Homo sapiens: one gene and its partners. The protein of the gene in region 3 interacts with the protein of the main gene of each other region in a pairwise test. Each region holds a gene or a part of one and is shown on either strand. Other genes may lie near its edges.

What was found. The genes of interacting proteins can lie anywhere in the genome.
Region 1: the proteins of DEUP1 (region 3) and SKIL interact in binary tests that used the Homo sapiens proteins (3 or more experiments, as listed by UniProt).
Region 2: the proteins of DEUP1 (region 3) and KRT28 interact in binary tests that used the Homo sapiens proteins (3 or more experiments, as listed by UniProt).

Annotation. Positions count from the first base shown.
Region 1 is NC_000003.12:170,388,592-170,395,835, reverse strand, and holds part of SKIL (ski-like protein), read right to left. Parts: intron 5,614-7,244; coding exon 5,372-5,613; intron 4,801-5,371; coding exon 4,576-4,800; intron 3,578-4,575; coding exon 3,419-3,577; 3' UTR 1-3,418. UniProt on the Homo sapiens protein: May have regulatory role in cell division or differentiation in response to extracellular signals.
Region 2 is NC_000017.11:40,796,839-40,804,724, forward strand, and holds the start of KRT28 (keratin, type I cytoskeletal 28), read right to left. Parts: upstream 3,122-7,886; 5' UTR 3,056-3,121; coding exon 2,606-3,055; intron 2,162-2,605; coding exon 2,079-2,161; intron 1,554-2,078; coding exon 1,397-1,553; intron 444-1,396; coding exon 282-443; intron 204-281; coding exon 78-203; intron 1-77. UniProt on the Homo sapiens protein: Essential for the proper assembly of types I and II keratin protein complexes and the formation of keratin intermediate filaments in the inner root sheath (irs).
Region 3 is NC_000011.10:93,333,679-93,340,922, reverse strand, and holds part of DEUP1 (deuterosome assembly protein 1), read right to left. Parts: intron 1-7,244. UniProt on the Homo sapiens protein: Key structural component of the deuterosome, a structure that promotes de novo centriole amplification in multiciliated cells.

The DNA.
Region 1 (7,244 bases), on a different chromosome or scaffold from region 3:
CAAGTAGTTCCAAGCACAGAAACAGATGTACAGTATGAGCACGATTTTTCTTTATATTAATTTTTAATGTCCTATCATGTGGATTAAATGCATAAAGGGCAAATAAAAATGAGGAATCTTCCCTAAGTAATCAAAACATATGCCTTATTGAGAAGAAAATTTTAGAAGCTGATTAAAATCCTTCAGCACTAGCTTTGCAATTAATTCTGGAGAAATACCTTGACACATCTTATAGTATTTGAGTTTCCTTATAACTTTACCTTCCTTCAAACAGAAGCTACCTATGTGCAAATAAACTGGTTGTTCTGTCAGGACTTCTAAAAGATATGGATAACCGGCAAATATATACTTTATTTCACCTACTTTAATAGCTGCTTTACAATTCGCTATGTACAAATGATTTTATATCTTAACTGGTAATATATTAAATATGTTATAAAATTAGTTCAAGAAGCATAAAACACCCTAACTCTCATGAACACAGAAATTCAAGCAAAAGAATATGCTTAAACAAAAACTAAAGCACACAGCAAACGTAAATTGTTGGTCAAATCTTTTCATAGTGTTATAAGTTACATTTGTGAAATTTAGGGTAGTTGAAGAGCTTCCTCAATAACAGCAAGAGGTTTTACATTTATTACCTTTATAGAGTAGGTACACTTTTCTCATAAAGTTTAGCCTACAGAAACTATCGCCACCCAAATTAAACATCACCCAAGCTAATATTCTTTCTTCCTTCTAAAGATGAGCTAGCAAAACTTTTTATAGGTTGTCCCTTTAATGCAGCTTTTTAGAATAAACATTTTTACATTTTTTCTTAAAAGAATTATTTTTTGAAGTCTGAGGAAAAATCCGCTTGCCTAGTGAATTTGGCACACAAAGAGTAACAACAAATCAAACTTTAAGCTAGCAACCAACACACAAAATAAGCATGCAAAGAATAGAATAAGTTTTATATGGATAAGGTATTTTAGCCAACTCCACTTATAAGGTATTACAAAATCTCTATATTGTTTTGAAGCTATGTGTTGCAGTTTAAAGTTACTTTTAACAATAATACGTATATTTACAATTGACTTAAAAAACTATTTTCAAGGAAGTTAGAAACCTATGGCACACCAACGCATCTTCTGGAAAATGAAGACGATACAATGTCATGTGGCAAGTTTTCAATATATGAAGGACTAGAAAAAATATTTCTTTACTCAATTCTGAATTACAAGTTCATAATAATTTAATGGTGTTTAAGCACTGCTTAAAATTTTCCAATAACATATTTCAAGGATTAAGCAATTTATTTTAGAAGTTTTGGGTTAAACAAATTATCATTTTCTAGGTAACATAAAGCAGAAAGGTTCCAAGTGAATTAGAAATATAAATGAAATTATAGGTGTTTGAGTTTGTCTTCCAAAAAGCTGAGCTGTGACACAAATAATTCAAAATTAAAATAAAACTATATCATAAATATCTGATTTTTCCTTCTCCAGATCTAAATAGATTGTATTGGGAGAATATGTCATTTTAAATATTTGTTTCTAAAAATTAGCCGGGAGTGGTGGTGGGTGCCTGTAGTCCCAGCTACTCGGGAGGCTGAGGCAGGAGAATGGCTTGAACCCAGGAGGCAGAGCTTGCAGTGAGCCGAGATTGCACCACTGAACTCCAGCCTGGGAGACAGCGAGACTCTGTCTCAAAAAAAAAAAAAAAAAAAAAAAAAAAAAAATTTGTTTCTACATGTCATTTTAATATTTGTTCCTCCTTGAGAAGATTCCAAGACTCAACGAATTAAATTAGTCTTAATATAGCAAAATTTAAATGGAAAATAGAAAACACACATTTAGGTTATACTCAATTTAGTAAATAAATTACATTTGGGGAAGTACAAAATTCTTTTTGGATATGTACTATTAAGCAAAATATGAAAATAACTGGTTAAATGACAACCTAGTGATTCTTTCTACACCATTAGATTATCTACCTTCTATGCTGGAAATAGAATATAACCTTAACCCTAGCTAATTTATTTTAAAATAAATATAGCTCTCTGAAGTAATTTCATACATAGTATCTTATAAGAGAACATGAAAAACATTTATTATCCCATAAAATCCATGGGGTAATAATGTCAATTAATGATAGTTTCAGGAAACTCCCTTTAAAAACAGATCTAAGAATTTTACCTAATATATTTTGAGCCAAGAATTAACAAATATGAAATTTGCCATTAGAGAATGACAGACTTTTCTGTGCAAAAAAAAAGTGCAGAAGATGTTGTCCCTCCTGAAACTATGGAATTCCTTTATCTTCTAAAACTTATCTAAAAATCTTTTAGTAGCAGGTAACTAAACTGTCCTATATGCACCTATCATGTACTATCAGTTGACTGTAAATTCCTGATTTTGATATTAAGTAGTAAATGAAAATGGTCCATTCGTGCAAATTTTGGTAAGACAACATTTAAACATACAGAAGTCCAAAATAACCTTCAAGGTGTTTAACATTTTACAACTTAAAGGAAAACAAGTCCATTATATAAATTTTAGTAAGACTCATAACTACATGTAAAAACTGTACAGGAGGATTATGGATTGTATAGAAACTGATACACAACAGTGGTATCAGTTTTTCTCAAGAACGTTAATATTTTCACACCACTATTAACAACACAAACAAAAGTTCAGAAATTATCACATTTTATTTTTGAAAAGTTGCTGCTTAAAAAAAAATCTAACTATAACCACATTTAAACTGAAAAACAAATTACAACTGCTGCTTCTGTTTAGCAGCAGCACATAACAACACATTCTTCTTCCCCACTGTGCTCATGGGGTATGCTATAACCTCAGTAAAATTCCTCCTAGGGTACACATTAAAAAGAAGAGAACTGGTGGAAATTCATTCCACAATCTGAACAAAGTAAAAGTAAATTTGGTGTATGTTAATGAGTACACCATATCAACTTAGAAAAATTGTGTTAATGAGAAAAGGGGAGATTCAACTCCTTGAGTAGCTCTATATACTTAAAATATAAAGCCACCATTGTATCTAAAATTGAGTCTGAAATATGGATAACAAAATTGACCACAGCTATTTTCCAACACATATTGCAGCTTTTAAAAAGTACACAATTGTTAAGTTTGCATTAGAAATATAAGCAGATTACCTACTAGTTGAAACCATATAGTATTGTTACTAAGCTGATTTTTTTAAAAAAGTACAAAGAAACATACATTTTCATTCATTTGGAAAATGTAAAAATTTAAGTACTAATATATAATCTCTTCACTTTCTCTGATCTACAAATGGATAGAATGCCTAGTTATCGTCATGCAGATAAATTCTTCAGAATTCAATTACCAAAGCAAGCAACAAACAAAAAAAACCTTGTCAGTAATACACAGATGAATCTCTTTAACAGTTTCTATTCTTTAGCAGTCTTTGATGATTTCAGAATTTGCAGCTTTAGCTCTTTTATCATCATCTCTAACTTCTGTCTTGCTTCCCGTTCCTGTCTGAGTTCATCTTGGAGTTCTTGCCTATCGGCCTCAGCATGGTCCAATCTCTGCCTCAGTTCTGCCAACTATGTGATTTAAAAGGCGCTATCAATTTTAATTGTTTTGTTTTTCCATTTAATCCTCATATCATAGAAAATATCTATTTTCAAATTACTTTTTACAAAACGAACTATTTCATGTATACTAAATCCATTAAGCATCTAATACTATTAATCTGACATCTGACAGGACACTAAATTTAAGAAAAAGCAAAGGAACAAGAGGAAGGAACACATCCAGCATGTTCATGTTCATTATGCCCTATACTTTACTATACCGCTCATCACAGCCTGCTCATGTTAGTTATTTGTTCATGTTCCTTAAATTGTGAGATTCTATTAACAAAAGAGAATTGCTTATTTTTGCTCCAGTGCTTTTGAACATAACAGGCAACAGTTCCTGTTTGTTAATTTGTAGATTTGAAAGCTCATATACTACATTAAAATAATATAACATATAATATTCAGAGGGCTAGAGATTAGCAATTTAGGTAACTAAACTGCAGTAACCCGATAAAAATTTAAACTAATAAAAGCAACAAACATCAAAATAATCATCTTGGACAATACAGCATAAAGCTATGTTTAACAGAATTATCTATTTTGAAATCTAGCTTAGTAAACTGAGCTTGACAAAAAGTAATTCCTTTATTAGAGAAGTAACGGTGGCCGGGTGCAGTGGCTCATGCTTGTAATCCCAGCATTTTGGGAGGCTGAGGTGGGCAGATCATGAGGTCAGGAGTTCAAGACCAGACTGACCAACATGGTGAAACCCCGTCTCTACTAAAAAATACAAAATTTAGCTGGGCATAGTGTCGCACGCCTGTAATCCCAGCTACAATCAGGAGGCTGAGGCAGGAAAATTGCTTGAACCCGGGAGGCAGAGGTTGTGGGGAGCTGAGATTGTGCCACTGCACTCCAGCCTGGGCGACAGAGCAGTCTCTGTCTCAAAAAAAAAAAAGAGAGAAGTAACAGTTTCCATTTCCATGCTGAAAGGGCACCATTATACAAACAGTAATTCTTACCTGTCCTGCATATTCAGCCTCTTTGTCTTTTTCTAAATTTGAGTCACAGGTACATTTTTGCTTCATTATCTGCTCCAATTTTTTCTCTAAGTCTTTCTGTTCAACATAAAATTCTTCCATTCTTTGAGCATGTTCATTCTGCAAAGATTCAAGCTCTTTCTGTAAATTCTGCTGTTCTTCAGTGAGTTCCTTCATAGATTTTGAACTACTCAACATTTTTACTTCCTGTAATGTAAAGAATCACAATACAAGTTTTACTTTATTTTCACCATGTTAAAATTTTCAGTTCTGGAAAACATAGCACAGAAAATACCTAAAATTCAGCTATCATTATCAGTTCTATATAGAGGTAATTATTTTAAAAAACTATTTTCTCAAAAAATTTTAAAATATATTAAAATTGCTTTTCAGTGTAAAACAATAATCTTAAGTACATTTGTAGCATCTCGTTTTGACTTTTCTTACTAAGAATATACAGGGGGGCTGGGCGCAGTGGCTCACACCTGTAATCCCAGCACTTTGGGAGGCCAAGGCTGGTGGATCACAAGGTCAAAAGTTCGAGCCTGGCCAGCATGGAGAAACCCCATCTCTACTAAGAATACAAAATTTAGCCAGGCATGGTGGCACGTGCCTGTAATGCTAGCTACTCGGAAGGCTAAGGCAGAAGAATTGCTTGAACCTGTGAGGTGGAGGTTTCAGTGAGCTGAGACTGCGCCACTGCACTCCAGCCTGGGCGACAGAGCAATATACAAAAGTATCTTTTCATAATGGACTATCATTTAGATAACAATTTTACCATCTGAAGTTGTTGCTTCTTTTGCAAAATCAAGTTTAGTTTTTCCTGTTGTTTTAAATAAGTTCTCATTACTTCTTCCATGATTTTTCCCTTATCATCCTCACAAATGACATCTTTCACAAGAAGCGGAGATGAAGCGGCAGCAACAAGGCCAATTCCCACTTTGTTTATGTCTCTGACTAAGTTGCAAGTGGCAGACTCAGATTTCCTTTTACTTGTAGAATTATTTGAGATTGATGCATCTTGGAGAGAAAAAAATCAAGTAACAAAGTATGAATATCACTCCATTAAAAAAATCACTAGAACAATCCATAAATGTAATTTTTAAAACATTTCATTTATAAATTAGACCAAAACAAATAAAATAGGAATAAATTTAACAAAAGCAGTGCAAGTACAATGAAAACTACAAAACATCACTAAAAGAAATTTAAGACCTAAATACATGGAAAGACATCCCAAATTCATGGATTGGAAGACTTAATATTGTTAAGACAGTAATAGTCTCCAAATTGATCTACTTATCAGTGCAATCCCTATCAAAATCCCCACTGGATTTTTTGCAGAAATTGAAAAGCAGTTTCTAAAATCCATATGGAAATGCAACAAACCCAAAATAGGCAAAATAATCTTGAAAAAGAATAACGAAGTTGAAAGACTCACAATTCCCAATTTCAAAGCTTACTACAAAGCTACAGAAATCAAGACTGTGTGACATGATTTAAAGATAGACATACAGATCAGTAGAACAGAATTCAGAGTCCAGAAATTTAAAAAACTCATACTTTATAAGGCAATTGTTGTTGACAAAGGTGCCAAAGCAATTCAGTCAGGAAAGAATAATCTTTTCTGGCCAGGCGCGGTGGCTCACGCCTGTAATCCCAGCACTTTGGGAGGCCGAGAAGGGCGGATCACGACGTCAGGAGATTGAGACCATCCTGGCTAACATGGTGAAACCCTGTCTCTACTAAAAAATACAAAAAATTTGCCAGGCTTGGTGGCGGGCGCCTGTAGTCCCAGCTACTCGGGAGGCTGAGGCAGAAGAATGGCGTGAACCTGGGAGGCGGAGCTTGCAGTGAGCCGAGATAGCGCCACTGCACTCCAGCCTGGGCAACAGAGCAAGACTCCGTCTCAAAAAAAAAAAAAAAGGAAAGAATAATCTTTTCAACATACGGACAACTATATCCACATGCAAAAGAATAAGGTTGGACCTTATGCTGTATACAAAAATTAACTCTAAACTGATCAAAGACCTAAATGTAAGAGCTACAACCCTTAAACATAAATTTCTTGGCTGGATGTGGTGGCTCACGCCTATAATCCCAGCACTTTGGGAGGCCGAGGCAGGTGGATTACCTGAGGTCAGGAGTTCACCACCAGCCTGACCAACATGGTAAAACTCTGTCTCTACTAAAAATACAAAAAAAATTAGCCAGGCATGGTGGCGCGCACCTGTAATCCCAGCTACTCAGGAGGCTGAGACAGAAAAATTGGTTGAACCCGGGAGGTGGAGGTTGCAGTGAGCTGAGATGGCACCACTGTACTCCAGCCTGGGCAACAGAGTGAGACTCTGTCTCAAAAATAAATAAATAAATAAATAAATACATAAATAAATATTTCTTGGAATTGGGATTAGGCAATAGTTTCTTAGATATGATACCTAAAACAAGAAAAAAATAGATAAATTGGATGTAATAAACATTTAAAACTTTTGTGCTTCAAAGAACACTAACACGGCCAAGCGCGGTGGCTCACACCAGTAATCCCAACACTTTGGGAGGCTGAGGCAGGTGGATTGCTTAAGCTCACGAGTTTGAGACCAGCCTCAACATGGCAAAACCCCAACTCCACCAAAAATACAAAAATTAGCCGA
Region 2 (7,886 bases), on a different chromosome or scaffold from region 3:
AAGGAAGGGCAGAGGGAAGTGTTTCTCGGAGGCTTTCTAGAATCACAGGATCCAGGCTGACCTTCGCTGTCACCTACCGTGGCCATCAGGGACTGCAGCTGGATCTCCAGGGTCTGCAGGGTGCGCCTCATCTCGGTGAGCTGGCTCCGGGCGAAAGTGGCTGCGCCTGAGTCGTGGGAGATCTGTTGCTGCAGCGAGGCGCTCTGTAGGGCCGGGAAAAAGGGTCACACGGAGTCCCCACCCCCGGGGAGGTGTGAGCAGGGAGACGGGGCCCACCTCACCTTCTCATTGAACCAGGCCTCCGCGTCCTTGCGGTTCTGCTCTGCAAGGGCTTCGTACTCCGCTCGCATGTTGTTCAACAAAACCGCGAGGTCTACCCCCGGGGCCGCGTTCATCTCCACGTTCACGTTGCCCCCAGCCGCGCACTGCAGAGCCTTCATCTCCTGGAGAGAAGCAAGAGTGTGGCTTTAGGGGCATTGCAGGTTCACACTCAGTCTGAGAAGTTCTCAAACGTGTTACTTTATGTCTCAAAGTTTGCGGTCAGGTGTATAATTTATGGCACACAATTTTTTAATTGACATATTCGGTCCATATTCATGCCAATCATCTATTTAATTAGTGAACTGTTGACCGGGCGAGGTGGCTCACTCCTGTAATCCCAGCACTTTGGGAGGCTGAGGCGGGCGGATCACTTGAAGCCAAGAGTTCCAGACCAGCCTGGCCAACATGGCGAAAACCCATCTCTACTAAAAATACAAAAATTAGCCAGGCTTGGTGGTGTGCGCCTGTAGTCCCAGCTACTCCAGAGGCTGAGGCAGGAGAATTGCTTGAACCTGGGAGGTGGAGGTTGCAGTGAGCTGAGATTGCGCCACTGCACTCCAGCCTGGCCACAGAGCGAGACTCTGTCTCAAAACAAAGCAATAGAAAACAAACAAAAAAAATTAGGGACCTGTTAATTAAAATTACCACCACCACCAAAAACAGTCATAGCACCCCAAGAGAAGTAATTTATTCTTTTAAATGAGAAAGGGATTTAAAGACCGGAGAGTTACTCAACATATAGTTACTGACTAAATGTCAGGTTGATGGGAATAGAACAGTAGAAAAAATCCTGAAATCCTGGCCCTCATAGGCATTCATCCTAGGGATGACCGCTGTCATTTATTGAGTGATTATTATAGGCCAGGCACTGTTCTGAGCGTGTGATATGTATTAATTCATTGAAGCCTTTTAACATCCCCTCGTAGTAGGTAGTATTATTAGACTAATCTGTCTGTATCCGTTGGCAAATTATAACAATGAACCTGAATTACTATTGTGATTTTAACCCCCAACCCCTGCCCAGTATTTAAAATGTACAGAGTTGTGATTGGACTACAGGTAAAGCTTCTCCTACCTCTTCGTGGTTCTTTTTGAGATATGTCATCTCCTCACTCAGAGACTCATATTGCAGCTCCTGGTCGGTCCTGCAGAGCGTCAGCTCGTCCAGGACTCGCCGTAATCCGTTGATGTCGGCCTCTACGTTTTGGTGAAGGGTGAGCTCATTTTCATACCTTGGGGGGCATTTAAGTGAATTTCAGTGCCAGTAAGACTACCCCAAGAAACAGAAATATTCAATCCCAATTGCTTTAAACTGAAAATTAGAAATTGAATTAGGACTGTAAATAGTATAAAAATATATGAAGAAAGCGCTCCTGCATTACCCCCACTCAATTCTGTACAGGATAATTGGAAGTTATTTCATCACACAAATTCCAATAGCATAACCTAGTTAAATAAAAATACACCATTTTGGAATTTTATTTTAGTTAACGTTTTTCCTTAGTTGACTAATGATTTACTGAGCATCTACTTTGTGCTTGGCAGTATTCTAGGCAGGCAGAGAAATATATTGATATTTTGTCCCAGGAATATAATAACTATGTATAAGTTGATTGTAACATTATAATACAAATCCTTTGCTTCCTTTTATCTTTTAGGTGATAGTTCATTCTACTTGGGATGAAATAGAAATTTTATTTAACAAATTAAATAAATAGAAACTTTTTTCTAGAGCAGGATTTTCTTCTGTCACTTACTTTAGCCTGAAATCATCAGCAGCCAGTCTGGCATTATCAATCTGCAGAATGACATTAGCATTAGTAGTAGTGGAGGAGATAATCTAGAATAAACCAAAACAGAGAACACAACAAGTAAGTATGCTTTTATGTGATTCATTATTTCAGGAAATGAAAAAGGTTACTCAAGTTTTTGCATAAAAATTTCACCTCCTTATGTAATAATCAAAATGTTTCAAGTTTAACTTTTAAAAATTAAAGACATGGTTTTATTTATTCTCATATATTCCCCTAAATTTAGAACTACAATACTTTTTTATTCATATGCCTATGAATGTACTTCAACATAAACAATGGAACTAATAACATTTTAACTACATTAAAATTCATGAATCAAAGGGCCCATTTTTGAATAGTAGGAAGAATTGTTTATCTAAATAAATAAATACAAGTTATAACAGTCATGAAGCATTTCTTATTGTATGTCTTTTGTTAGGTATTTCTTAGTTTTAAATACTTGGGTTAGTTCCAAATCTGTGATTTCTCACCTTATTCTTAAGATCCTCAATTGTTAGGTGATATCTGCTATAGTCATGATCAAGTCCACGGCAAGATCCAGGTCCGTATTTTTCATACCAACCCTTGATTTTTCTCTCTAATTCAGCATTTGCCTCCTCCAGAGCTCGCACATTATCCAGGTAGGATGCCAAGCGGTCATTAAGATTTTGCATGGTCACCTTCTCATTTCCAGAGAGGAGTCCCCCTTCGCTTCCAGCAAAGCCAATACAAGCAGCATTTCCAAGGGCACCACCAGCATGGCTCCCACCAGGAACACTGCCCAAGCCCCCTCCCAAGGCACAGGAAAATTCACTTCCAGCAACAGAGCCACCACATGCACTGCTGCCTGCAAAGCCTGCACCTCCATTGAGGGGTCTGACAGATCCAGCTCCAGACCTTAAGCAAACATGCCTGGATCCATTAGAAAATTGGAGAGACATGGTGTTTTGAGAAATGTTCACCTTGTCTATGCAAAACTGTAATGTCCCAAGAGAACAGAATATCATGCACTGATAATTTCTTTGGGTTTTTATATATCATTATTGGGGCGTTCCTATTTGAGTTATACATGCCAAAAGCAAAATGGCATCACTTAGATTAGCATAAAATTATGTATAATTGGGTGATTTTAAAAATAATTAATGTCTAACATCCCTCGGTGTTGCTTTGGGCTATTTCTTATCTTAAATATAATAGGGTTTGTTCTATATTAAGTTTATTAATTTAACTTCTAATTTTGAGTGAGTAATCCTTTCCTTTCATCTAGACCCTAGGCATATACTGTCATTATCTGGCGCCAGGTATTATCAAATTTTTTATAAAGTTAAGTAAGATTATGATAGAGTTCTGTGAGGTACAGTAGGGTCTCAATTACCATGGAGGGGTATAAAGGACTGCTAATTACAGAAACAGATATTTTATCCCACCAGAAAAAAATGTGTTATTTAGAAAACAGAGGCTAGTGACATCTCTGTTCTTACCATGATTATAACATCTATTTATTATCTTGGACAATGACACAAATATTGACCTATTATTTTGTTTAAAATAGCATGGTTATGATGTTTGGTGCTCTATGCTAAGTGCTAAAATGAAAGACATAGTGTTAACTAAATGCAGAAGTGAAAAATGCGTGATTACAATCTTTAAGAAATCTATTGTCAGGTCCAGACAGGGGCTGGATCATGGTTAGCTTTCTGTGCTGGTCTAAAGAGTTTGTAATGAATCCTAAGTAAAAAGCAGAGGGCAAAATGATCAGGTTGAAATGAAACAAGGTGGTCAATTACAAGGTTGGAATAATGGTCCAGGTGAGAAGGATGAAGGCAGTGGGGATGCAGAGAAGATGGCTTTGAGAGCATATGGTAATATGATTGAATTTGGAGAGTAGGGAATAAGGCAGAATTGGGGATAACTCTTAGGTAATTAATTTTAGATTCTGGGAACTCATAATATTCACTGAGATGGGGAATAGAGGAGGAGGAAGACACTGAGTTTAGGTTTGGACCAACTGGATTTGAGGGGTTGCCAGAATGTTCCAGATGAAGGTGACTGATAGCAAGAATGACTGTTTAGAATATGTATACTGAACTGGAAAAATACTTGACTAGCAATGAGTAAAAGAAAATTGGAGGGTCCAGCTCTCATTTATAATGATGTTCAACTGCATATTTGGAAGTAATCCTGGTGCAGGAATAGAAAGGATGATGATCAGATTGATGTGGGTTTTGGGATTTGAAGACAGGTCCAGAAGAAGGAAATAGTGGCAAAGAAATTTCTGGTGTTCTTGAGAAAACAATTGAGGCGATTGACTGTATGATCATATAGCAAGAAGAAAGTAAAACCAGAGGGACAGATGGACTGAAGAAAAGGGCAGAGGGTGAGTCATTGGGTATCCTTATGAGGTCATGGAGCAGGCGGAGTGTGAGGAGGAGATTGATAAAGGTGAAGGATGACAGGCTAAAATTGGATAGTGGAAACCAGAATTTAGAATTTTAAAGTAGGCACAACTCCAGGTGTCACCAAAGTCCACAGAGTAGTCATGGGAGTGGACCAACAGTCACTGGAACAAGAAGTCAGAAGTGGATTGGACCTGAAAGGCAAGAGAGTAGGAGGTCAGGAACTATCTGTCTGTGACATTAAATGTACCATCTATAAAGGCGTGAAGTTTCTCATGATGGCAGGAGACAGGAGGGAAGTGGGCTGTGAGCCATTGTCAAGGTTTTTGGATGATGAGGCAGAGGGGAGTGTATGTGGTGAGGGGCCATTGGATGGCATTTGCCTCAAAAGAGGAGTCTTAGCATAAGAATTAAGTGGCACAAAGCTAGATGTGGCATTGGGGATCTAGAGAACACAGACTCTGCCTTGAAGTCCTTATGTTAGGTGTGTGGAAGTGGGAGCAGAAGAGGAGATGGAAGTGAAGAAGGAGGATGGAGAGGAGATGACAAGAAAAGATGTGGGAGAAAATGAGAGGAAAAGATGTGGGAGAAAATGAGAGGAAAGGGGAGAGAGATGGGAATGGAGATCGAGGATGAAGGATAAGTTTCTGATAGAAAAAGTTGTTAGGACAATTCAGCAGAAAGTGGTTAATGCTATTAAAGAATCATTTCAGTTGAACTATTTTGCAGAGAGGTCTGCAGAAAAGGTTCATGTAATTGTCAAAGTGTGGGTAAAAAGAGTTTCCACCTCATAAGCTTGTTGAAAAACTAAATGAGATCATGCTTAGTGCGGTGCCTGGCAAATGGAAAACTGTCAATGAATGGAAGCCATTATTATTACTATTGGTGTTGTTCCTAACTGGGTGTGTGAGTGTGGAGGGCTGGGACATCAGGCTGGAAGGGAAGGAGAGGTGACCAAGGAGAAGCCTCCTTCCTCTTGAGGCCATGGCTGTGGAGGGTGGGGATGAAGAGGGTTGGCAGGGCAGGAAAAAGGAGGGACAAGGGACAGGAGACACTTGGTTGGACGTGACTGGTTTTGAGTCCACTTGGTTGGATTTGACTGGGTTCAGGGAGTGATGACAAGTATAAAATTGTTTTGCCACCAGAATAGTCAGGGGTGGTCTCCTGGAATTGCCTTGGCCTAAACAGTCTGGAGCCTGATTAGCTGGTGCTGAGGGTGGCTCGCGTGTGGCCTCTAAGATGCATTTTCTGGACAAAGTTGTAGGATATTTTTAGAGTTGCAAAGAGCCTTAGACATCACCTAATTTAGCCCCTTATTTGGCAGTTCAGGGCAACTGAGACTCAGAAATGTTGAACAATTTGCTCAGAGCTGTGAGGGATAGGCCAGGTGAAAACGTGGCATATGTTCAAGTTGACCTTGGTATTCTGGCACCGTGAATATATTTAGACATAAGTAATTACTCTATGATGCATGCTCATACAAATACTTTATATGTTGCCATTTGTAGTCTTTTTTTAAACATTGGCAACCTCTTTAATATCTAGAGACTAGATATTATAAAATTAGGACTCACTTGTCCAGTATGTACACAATATACACAGTATAACAAAGTTAAATAAAACGCATGTAACACATAGGGAAATATATAAGCTGAAATTTTCTAGCATACACCATCCATAGTCTTAACACGCGTGAGTTGTAAAATGATTCTAATTGAATTGCTGAGATTTAGCTATAAGGAATTAGAATATGAAAATGTATAAAGAATTGCAAATCTCTCATTTATTACTAAACTCCAAATAATAATTAGACAACTCATTGGTGTAACGTGTCTGTATCCTTTATAAGTAAGTAAAATGTTTCCAAAAGGCCATTTTACAACAAGAAAAGAAACAACAATGCATTGCATACTTGAAAATTGCTAAGAGAGTAGAATTTAAGTGTTTTCACCACAAAAGATGATACAGATATGGGGTGATGTGTGGGTTAATTACTTTGACTGAGCCATTCCACAATGTACACGTATTTTCTTTTTGTCTTTTTTTTAACTTTTCTTAATCAAAAGAAAACTGGGTTTTTTTCCTTTAAAAATGTATACATATTTTAAAACATCACCCTGGGTTTTTTTTTGTTTTCTTTAAAAAGTACATATATTTTAAAGCATCATGTTGTACAACATAAATATACACAATTATAATTTGTTAATTTAAAAAACACATGAAAACAACAAAAAGAAAAAATGACAAACTATTTCTTTAAAAAGTATATGCTTAAATAAGCGGATTCTCCTTTTCAGCCAGCGTCTGTCATTAGGATCCTGACCATCCCAGTTGCCGGGCACGCTCACCCTTCTCCTTCCACCAGGGGGCAGGGCTCGTTTACATATGGATTTCGCCGCGCAGATGCCAGGGGCGGAACCTCCTCTCCAGCCTGGGTCCCTGCTGTCCTCAGGTGGAAATGATTAAACCTCTGCAAACAAGCAGCTTCAGCATTTAATTTTGTGAAGTTACAGAGTGTGATAAGTACAAAGACACGATGGCCTTACATTGATATGCTGCTTTACAGCTTCCAAAGGGATTTCTTGTATATGATCTCATTTGAACCTTATAATGAAGGTGGGAATTAGGAAGAGAGAGGTTTTCTTTCCCTGTTTTAAAGATAAGGAAACAGAGGAACCATTCAAGGATACACAGTGTGAAACGGGATGGACAAGGCCCAGAACGCGCCTTGTGTCTCAGTGAGGTGGTCCTTTCAGTTCATAATTATCTTAAGGTCAGGTAGAGAAATGAAAACCAAACAATGCAAAAATCTGTCTTTAATGTCTTTAATTTGTCTTCTTACAAATTCTTTGCAGAATTTCGAATTAATAGCAAAATAAAATTTTTGGCTACAGTTCTGCTATCAGGTGTCATTCATTCATTCACTCATTTGTTCAGTCAAGAAATATTTAGTGATCACCTATTTTTTTAAAACGTTTATTTTAGGTTCAGGGATACATGTGCAGGTTTGTTATACAGGTAAACTCATATCATGGGGATTTGCTGTGCAGATTATTTTGTCATCCAAGTACTAAGCCTAGTGACCAGTACTTTTTTTTTTTTGATCTAGTGAACACCTATTATGTGCCAGGCATTGCATTAGTGGCAGGTGGTACCAAGGGGAAGAAAATAGAGGCCTTCTCAACTCTCATGGAACTTATTGTTTATTGGGGAGTTGAGCCTTAAGCAAATAAGCATAAAATTACAAATTGCTGTAAAAATTAGGGAAGGAAGGAATATGGAACTATTAGGGGAGGACCTAATTTAGATTAAAGCAATCCTTTTGAAGAAATGACATTAAGCAGACACTGGAAAGATGAGAAAGAGATTGCTAGGC
Region 3 (7,244 bases):
GTGTACATACAGGCAGCTTCACTTGGACATACGACAAACGTCTTCACTTGGATATATAACAGGCATCTCAAACCAAGCTTGCATTTTCTCCAGTCTTCCTTATTTAATAAATGACAATTCTGTCCCTTCCAGCTGTTAGGCCAAAAGTCTTTGGACCATCCTTTGTTCATCATCTTCTCACACACTCCATATCCAATCCAGGATCTATAACATTGTCAGCTATTTCATGAAAACAAACCCATTTGTCACTATGTCTACATCTATCAATCTGATCTACTGTCATCTCCCACAGCTTAGCTTGTCTGCCTTTTCAACCCTTACCCTCCTATGGTCTATTCTTCCCATAGCAACTAGAGCGAGCCTTTTAAAATATTAAGTCAGAAAATGTCACTCCCTTGCTCAGAGTCCTCCAGTGACTTCCCATTTTACACAGTGAAATCTGAAGCCTTGACTAAGGTCTGTGAGGCCCTTCAGGACTTGGCCCTATTTGCCTTTCTGAGGTCATCTCCTACCACTTTCCCCCTTGCTTCCTCCTCTCTAACTGGCCTCTTTTCTGTTCCTTGAAAACGTCAATCATGTTCCTGTTGCAGAAGCTTTGCTTTTGCTGATTCCTCTGCCTGGAATGCCATTCCCCCAGATATCCAGATGTCTACATCTCTCACTTTTTTTAGGTCTTTCTTCAAATGTCACCTAACCAGATTTACTCTGTAACTCTCTATTCTCATAATCTGCTTACTTTTTCTACATAGTGATTATTACCACCCCCAACATAATATAGATTTATTTATTTGCTATAATCTGTTTCCCTCCACTAGACTGTAAGCTCCAATGAGGTCTCTGATACCATCGCAGAGCCATAGTATCAGCTCTAAATTTCCCACCTCCAGAAAAATAGGAACCCTAATTTGCTTGGGTATTATATTACGAGCTTCTGGTTTTTATTTGAATTTTGTGTTTTAGCAGACCCCTTCTGACAATACTCCAGCAGGGGAATAGAATGCCACCTCATTACTGCCAGACAGTGGTGGAAGTTCAGGTTCTCGACTCAGCCTCTGTTGCCACTTGGAGGGAGGAACTCCTCATTACTGCTGGGTGGGGGTGACAGTTCAGGCCCCTAGTAGCTCTGCACTGATACCACCTTGGCTGGGACGGGTAGGGATGCCTCATTACTCTTTCCTACGTGGCCTCCTCCGACACTGTGTAAGGTGGGTTCCCTCGTTATCATTACCACTCAAAGTGTCTTGCGTTCCTTTGCTATGGTAAGTCTCCCTTGGGGTTGTTGGTGATTTGAGGCAAGATTTGGATATTCCTGAGTCCCTGGGCCATTGCACCAATTATGCCTCATATGCCACCTGTTTCTAATATAAATGGATAGCCTCTATGGGTAATTTGACTAGCTGTCCTTTATAAGCCAGCTCTTTTGTTGATTCATCTTTTTATTTTCCTATTCTTGAACCATTTTAAGTAGTGTATAACTTGAAGATTTATAAGATTAGCATAAAGTATTTGCATTTTCCCCTTTCTCCTTTTTAGAGAAAATTTGGAAACCATTTCATTGCATGGATTGTATAGTGCACCTAGCTGTGTGCTGCTCATCTTGTACTCTAGCATTTGTACAGATTATAGGTATAGTTACTCCACGGCACTATGGGTTGGCCAGTGGATTTCCCCATAAATGGCTATGCCATATATGTTTGTGCTTTAATATGGCAACATGTGAAACATATTTCTGTCATTCTATAACACTTTCTATTATAAGAAGCAACAATAACTTAATAATTGCTTTTAGAGGAAACAGGGAATAATAGCCAAATGTATCTTCTGATTTCAAGACACAACCTAACTTAAATAACATTTAAGGGTGAAAACTGTGAGTCTTAGTATGTTACCCTTGGAGAGTCCATGAAAGCACATGGGTATGTTTTGTCCCTGGCTGAAGCCATTCCTATGTAACCATTCCCCATACATTCTCCAATTAAAAAGGCAAGTCCTCAATACCCCAAGTGTATCTATGAAAATAGTCCTGGATTCTCTTCATTTTTTCACACCCTGCTTTTATACAACCTCATTTCTATCTAATTCTGAACTCTTGATTCAACTCTTCTCTAGTCTTTTGAAATTGGTATTTATATTTTATTTCCCTGTTGTTTGACAGTTTATTGCCTTTAATAAGCTGTCATTCTTTCAGTTCACTCATTCATTCAACAAATGTTGACTGAGCTGGGAGCAGTGGTTCATGCCTGTAATTCTAGCACTTTGGGAGGCCAAAGTGGGAGGATTGCTTGAGTCCAGGAGTTCAAAACCAACCTAGGCAACATAGTGAGACCCTACCACTACAAAAAACAAAACAAAAAGATTGCCAGTCTTGGTGGTGTGTACCTCCCAGCTACTCAGGAGGCTGAGGTGGAGGATTGCTTGAGCCCAGGAGGCTGACATTGCAGGAAGCCAAGATCACACCACTGTACTCCAGCCTGGGTGACAGAGCAAGACCCTGCCTCAGGAAAAAAAAAAAAAAAAAGTTGACTGCATAATTACCCTATGTCAGGCACTGTGCTTGTCCCTGTGGTGTGACAGAAGAGAAGACAAAACATTGCTGAACAGAGCTAGGGCCCCTGGAATACGCTGGCCTATAGTGTTATAGGACCAACTTCTTAACGTTCTTATTACCACTGATACTTGTGTTGCTACTTCTCTTGCCAGCTTTTCTATTTTTGTCTCTATTTCTCCTTTTCCTTCTGCTTCTTGAGTTCAAGGAGGGTACAACTTTTATACTAACTGCTGTCCAATGAGACTGCTTCTTTCTTTTGGGGAGAGAACAAACGCACTCATCACATATCTGTAATATTCATGTTTTTAGCACTTCTCTGTTTCACCAGTGCTCTGATTAGAGGCTCACAAAGTCCCAGGTGGTTCCAAGGTGCCATACAACTAAGCACCATAGACAACCAGGTCAGGTTAGGTGGGATGCACCTGATGTACATATCTACATTCACACATATCAGATTTTTAAGAAAATGTATGTTGTAACTAATCTTTTGTAAAGATTTTCCTGTGAAACGTATGTGCAAATTTATCCTACACAGTGGTACTTTTTCATCTTTCCTTAAACTTACTAGCAGTTTGATTAGGTCTCTTGTAGAAATCTTCCCTTTCTTTCCTTATTTCCTTCCTCCCTCTCTCTCCTTCCTAATAACTTTCCTTCCTTTCAAAAACATGCATTTAATTCCTACAGTCACTCAGCACTGCTAACATTTCAGAGTCTACCGTCAAGTTTGACATGTCAGGATTTTAACCCAGATGTACTTTACTTTGTTTCTTCTTCAGAGATACAAGAAACTGGAAGAACTTGTCCAGTTTGATTACTCTGGGGAGGAATATACGTGTATATGGGGGGAGGTGAATAAAGTATGAAGAGAGGGAGAGTAAGGGGGTACAGTCTGGGCTAACCAGAAAGCAAGGGAATTAACCAAATTTAAAAAGAATTTTCAATGTGCAAAAATAATATATAATTTATTCAGGTACCAATATGTTGACTTACATCAGAAAAATTAGATTTTATTTTATAAACTGTAATTAAAACTGTGTTTAACTCATCAAGAACCTGGTAAGTAAAGTTATGATTCATAAAGTCAAGAACCTGGTAAGTAAAGTAAAGATGATTAATATATCTCAGAGGGAAAGAATACTTTAAGGGTTAAGAAAGATGCACACAAAAAGAGTATAGTTTTAAAGGACCTTTTGAATCAGATGCAAGAAGTTATGATTTAATATTCATCTACCTTGGTTCTTTGAAAATAATGACTTTCACAGCAGATAAGAAGAATCTGGTGGATCACGTAGCAGTACCTAGATGTTTAGGAAGCATTTGACAAGATTCTATGAATGAGATCAATGGCTAAGATAAAAGTCACAGAATAAAAGGTACAGTAAAAGATTCAGTAGAGAAAAATGAGAATTTGGTTGAAGATGTATGCACACACATTTTGTTCCCTCCCCAAATCCTACTAACACAAAGTAAAGGGATATTTTTAACCTAGAAGGTCAAACCTAGAAGGATAAAAATAACAGGAACTAGCAGTGGACAAAGCCAAGTAGCAAACCAACTAGATACATCTGGAAGTAGCAAGTGAGTGTCAGCCTGAAAACAGGAGGAATGGCTAAGAAGGGGTTGACTCCTAGATCTCCTCACTGGCATTCGAATCCAGGCATATTCTCTGGAGAAGCTAAAACAGAAAGGCTCTGGACTGGGGTTGGGGAACACCAGGTACAGTAGATGGCAGGACCACTGTACTGGAAACTGGGGGGGTTAAGGTCAACAATGTAAGTCTGAATTCAGCCCCCTCATCCTTTTCAGCTCCCAGAATGCTGGTATACTCTCCAGGTAGGAAATTAGAATTCTCTGGAATCTGATTAGCCTGAGACAAAAGACTGAAAGAGAGTGACCTGGGGTCCTGCAAGGAAACTGCCTAGTCTGATGACTATGGAGTAAAGACCACTGTCAATAAGCCCGCTGATATGGTTGGCTCTGTGTCCCTAACCAAATCTCATGTCGAATTGTAATTCCCAGTGTTGGAGGAGGGGCCTGGTGAGAGGTGACTGAATCATGAGGGCGAACTTCCCCCTTGTTGTTCTTGTGATAGTGAGTTCTCAGGAGATGCAACTCCCCCCTTCTCTCTCTCTCCCTCCTGCTCTGGCCACATAAAACATGCCTCCTTCCTCTTCGCCTTCTGCCATGATTGTAAGTTTCCTGAGGTCTCCCCAGCTATGCTTCCTATTTGTTTTTTGGGTTTTGTTTTTTGTTTTTGTTTTGAGATGGAGTTTTGTTCTTGTTGCCCAGGCTGGAGTGGAATGGCACAATCTCGGCTCACTGCAACTTCCGCCTCCCGGGTTCAAATGATTCTCCTGCCTCAGCCTCCTGAGTAGCTGGTATTACAGGCATGCACCACCACACCAGGCTAATTTTTATTTTTAGTAGAGACGGGGTTTCTCCATGTTCGTCAGGCTGGTCTTGAACTCCCAACCTCAGGTGATCCACCTGCCTTGGCTTCCCAAAGTGCTGGGATTACAGGCGTCAGCCACTGCACCTGGCCTCTATTTGTTAATCTAACCATATGCTATTTATATGTGGAGAAAAACTTGATATGACCTAAAAAAGGTTGAAAACAAGGTGATGAACAAAGATATTATTGATTAAAGTAAACTAAAAAGAAAGCAGGGATGGTAATATTAATATCAGGCAAAGTAGAATTAAAACAGAAAACATTAGTTTATACTTGTGCTATATTTTATAATGTTAATCATATAATATGCTGAGAAGATATACGCATAAACCTTGACACATCAAGCAACAGAACACTGAAATATGTAAACCAAAAATTGTTAGTAATACAAGAAGGACTAGACAAACTACAATTATAGTGAAGATCTTCCTTAGAATTTGACAGATCAAATAAACAAAAATTAATGTAACTGTACTTGAAAAACACAAGTTAAACATAATAACAACAATTAAAATGTTTGATTATATAACTTTTTTAGCCTTTTTACTCAACCAAAAGAGAACATACATGTGTTTTCAAATACCCAAAGGACATTAATAAAAGTTGATCCTGCAATAGACTACAAGAATAATCTTAGTGAAATTGACAGAGTCAAAATCATATAGTCCATATCCTATGACTATGACAGTAGAAAGATTAAAAAGTAATAATAAAAAGATAACTAAATGCCCCTTGAAATTACATTTTGTAAATATCTCTTGAGTCAAAGAAGATATCAAATTTGAAATGATAGATTATTTAGAAAATGATGGTGAGAACACTAACCCTATGGCAGGCAGCAAAGCTGTGCTCAGGAGGAAACTTACATGCTTTTATTATTTAAAGAAATCATGAAATCCAGAAATCATGAAAATAACTGAAGCACATTTTTCAACCCATGGGAACAAGATAGAATAAACCATAAAAGGGAAAACTAGTAAGTAGAAATTCATGAATAAGAAAACAAAAACAAAGCAAAACCTAGAGAAGGTTTTCTTAAAAAGGCCAATAAAAGGGATCACTTATTCTATAATTATGTTCTGGAAACACACTTTAAAAACAAAAAGAACAAACATAAAATTGAGTTTCAATTACAAGGAGTTTAGATTATTATGGCACAAATACAAACACCTATAATTGGAAGAAATCATGGATAAATTAACATCAAACCCGGTTATAACCATGATATCAGAGAATATTGATTCACTCACACTGAAAATGTTCTGTGGGAAAGCTCCCACCATAGGCCTTGGCACTTTCTGCTCCTGCTCTGTGTAATCTTTTCCCCAGATATAATCTCTGCTCGAATGCTGCCTTACCAAAGTATCTTTATTTGACCACTCCATTCACACTCTCTATTTTTCCCACCCTTAGCCTGCTTTATTTTTCTTCATATCACCATATGATACAAATTTATACGTTTATTATCTGTCTCTTCCACTATGGTATAAGCCCCTTGAGAAGAAGTTGTCTATTTTGTTCACTGCTACCTTCCTGGTGCCTAGACCAGTAAGTAGCTCACAGTAGACTCTAAATAGGTATCTGTTAAATGTAGGCTGCTCCACAAAACATTACTGTATATGTAGATGACATGGTTTAATAAGCTACATAACAAGTCCCTGATGATGAAGTTTTATTGTATTCATGATCTAGATTTATACATAACTCTCAATAGCATGTGGGACTGAGGCAATGCCAACCTGGGGTCTCCATGCTTTGGAGACCGTGGTAGGCAGTGTGTGGACCCATGTCTACTGTGATGAGTGGAACAGTACCTCAGGAAAACCTCTAAAAACTCTCATTAACTTGGGGGGTTGTAATTACACCATACCCAAACAAGTTCTACTGTTCCTTACTAAATTCTAAGTTCTTTAAAGACAAGGTCTGTTTCTTAAATGACTCCATGGCCTTGGATTTGTAGGAGTGAAGTGATATCTGGGACCCAACCTTAGGTTCAACATCTTCAATCTGCATCTTAGCTCTTAGTGCTATCATCACACCAGGGACCCAACACATACTTAACCCAGAATCCTAACCTGGCTCTGCTATGGATACCAGGCAGGCTGCTCCCTGCATCTCATTGCCATCCATTTCCAATGTAGGAAGGAACACAGGGATTGGAGCCAGGCATACCTGAATTCAAATCCTACTTTCTCTACTAACCTGGTGTATATTCTAGGATGAGCTCCTGCTTTTTTTGTCTTT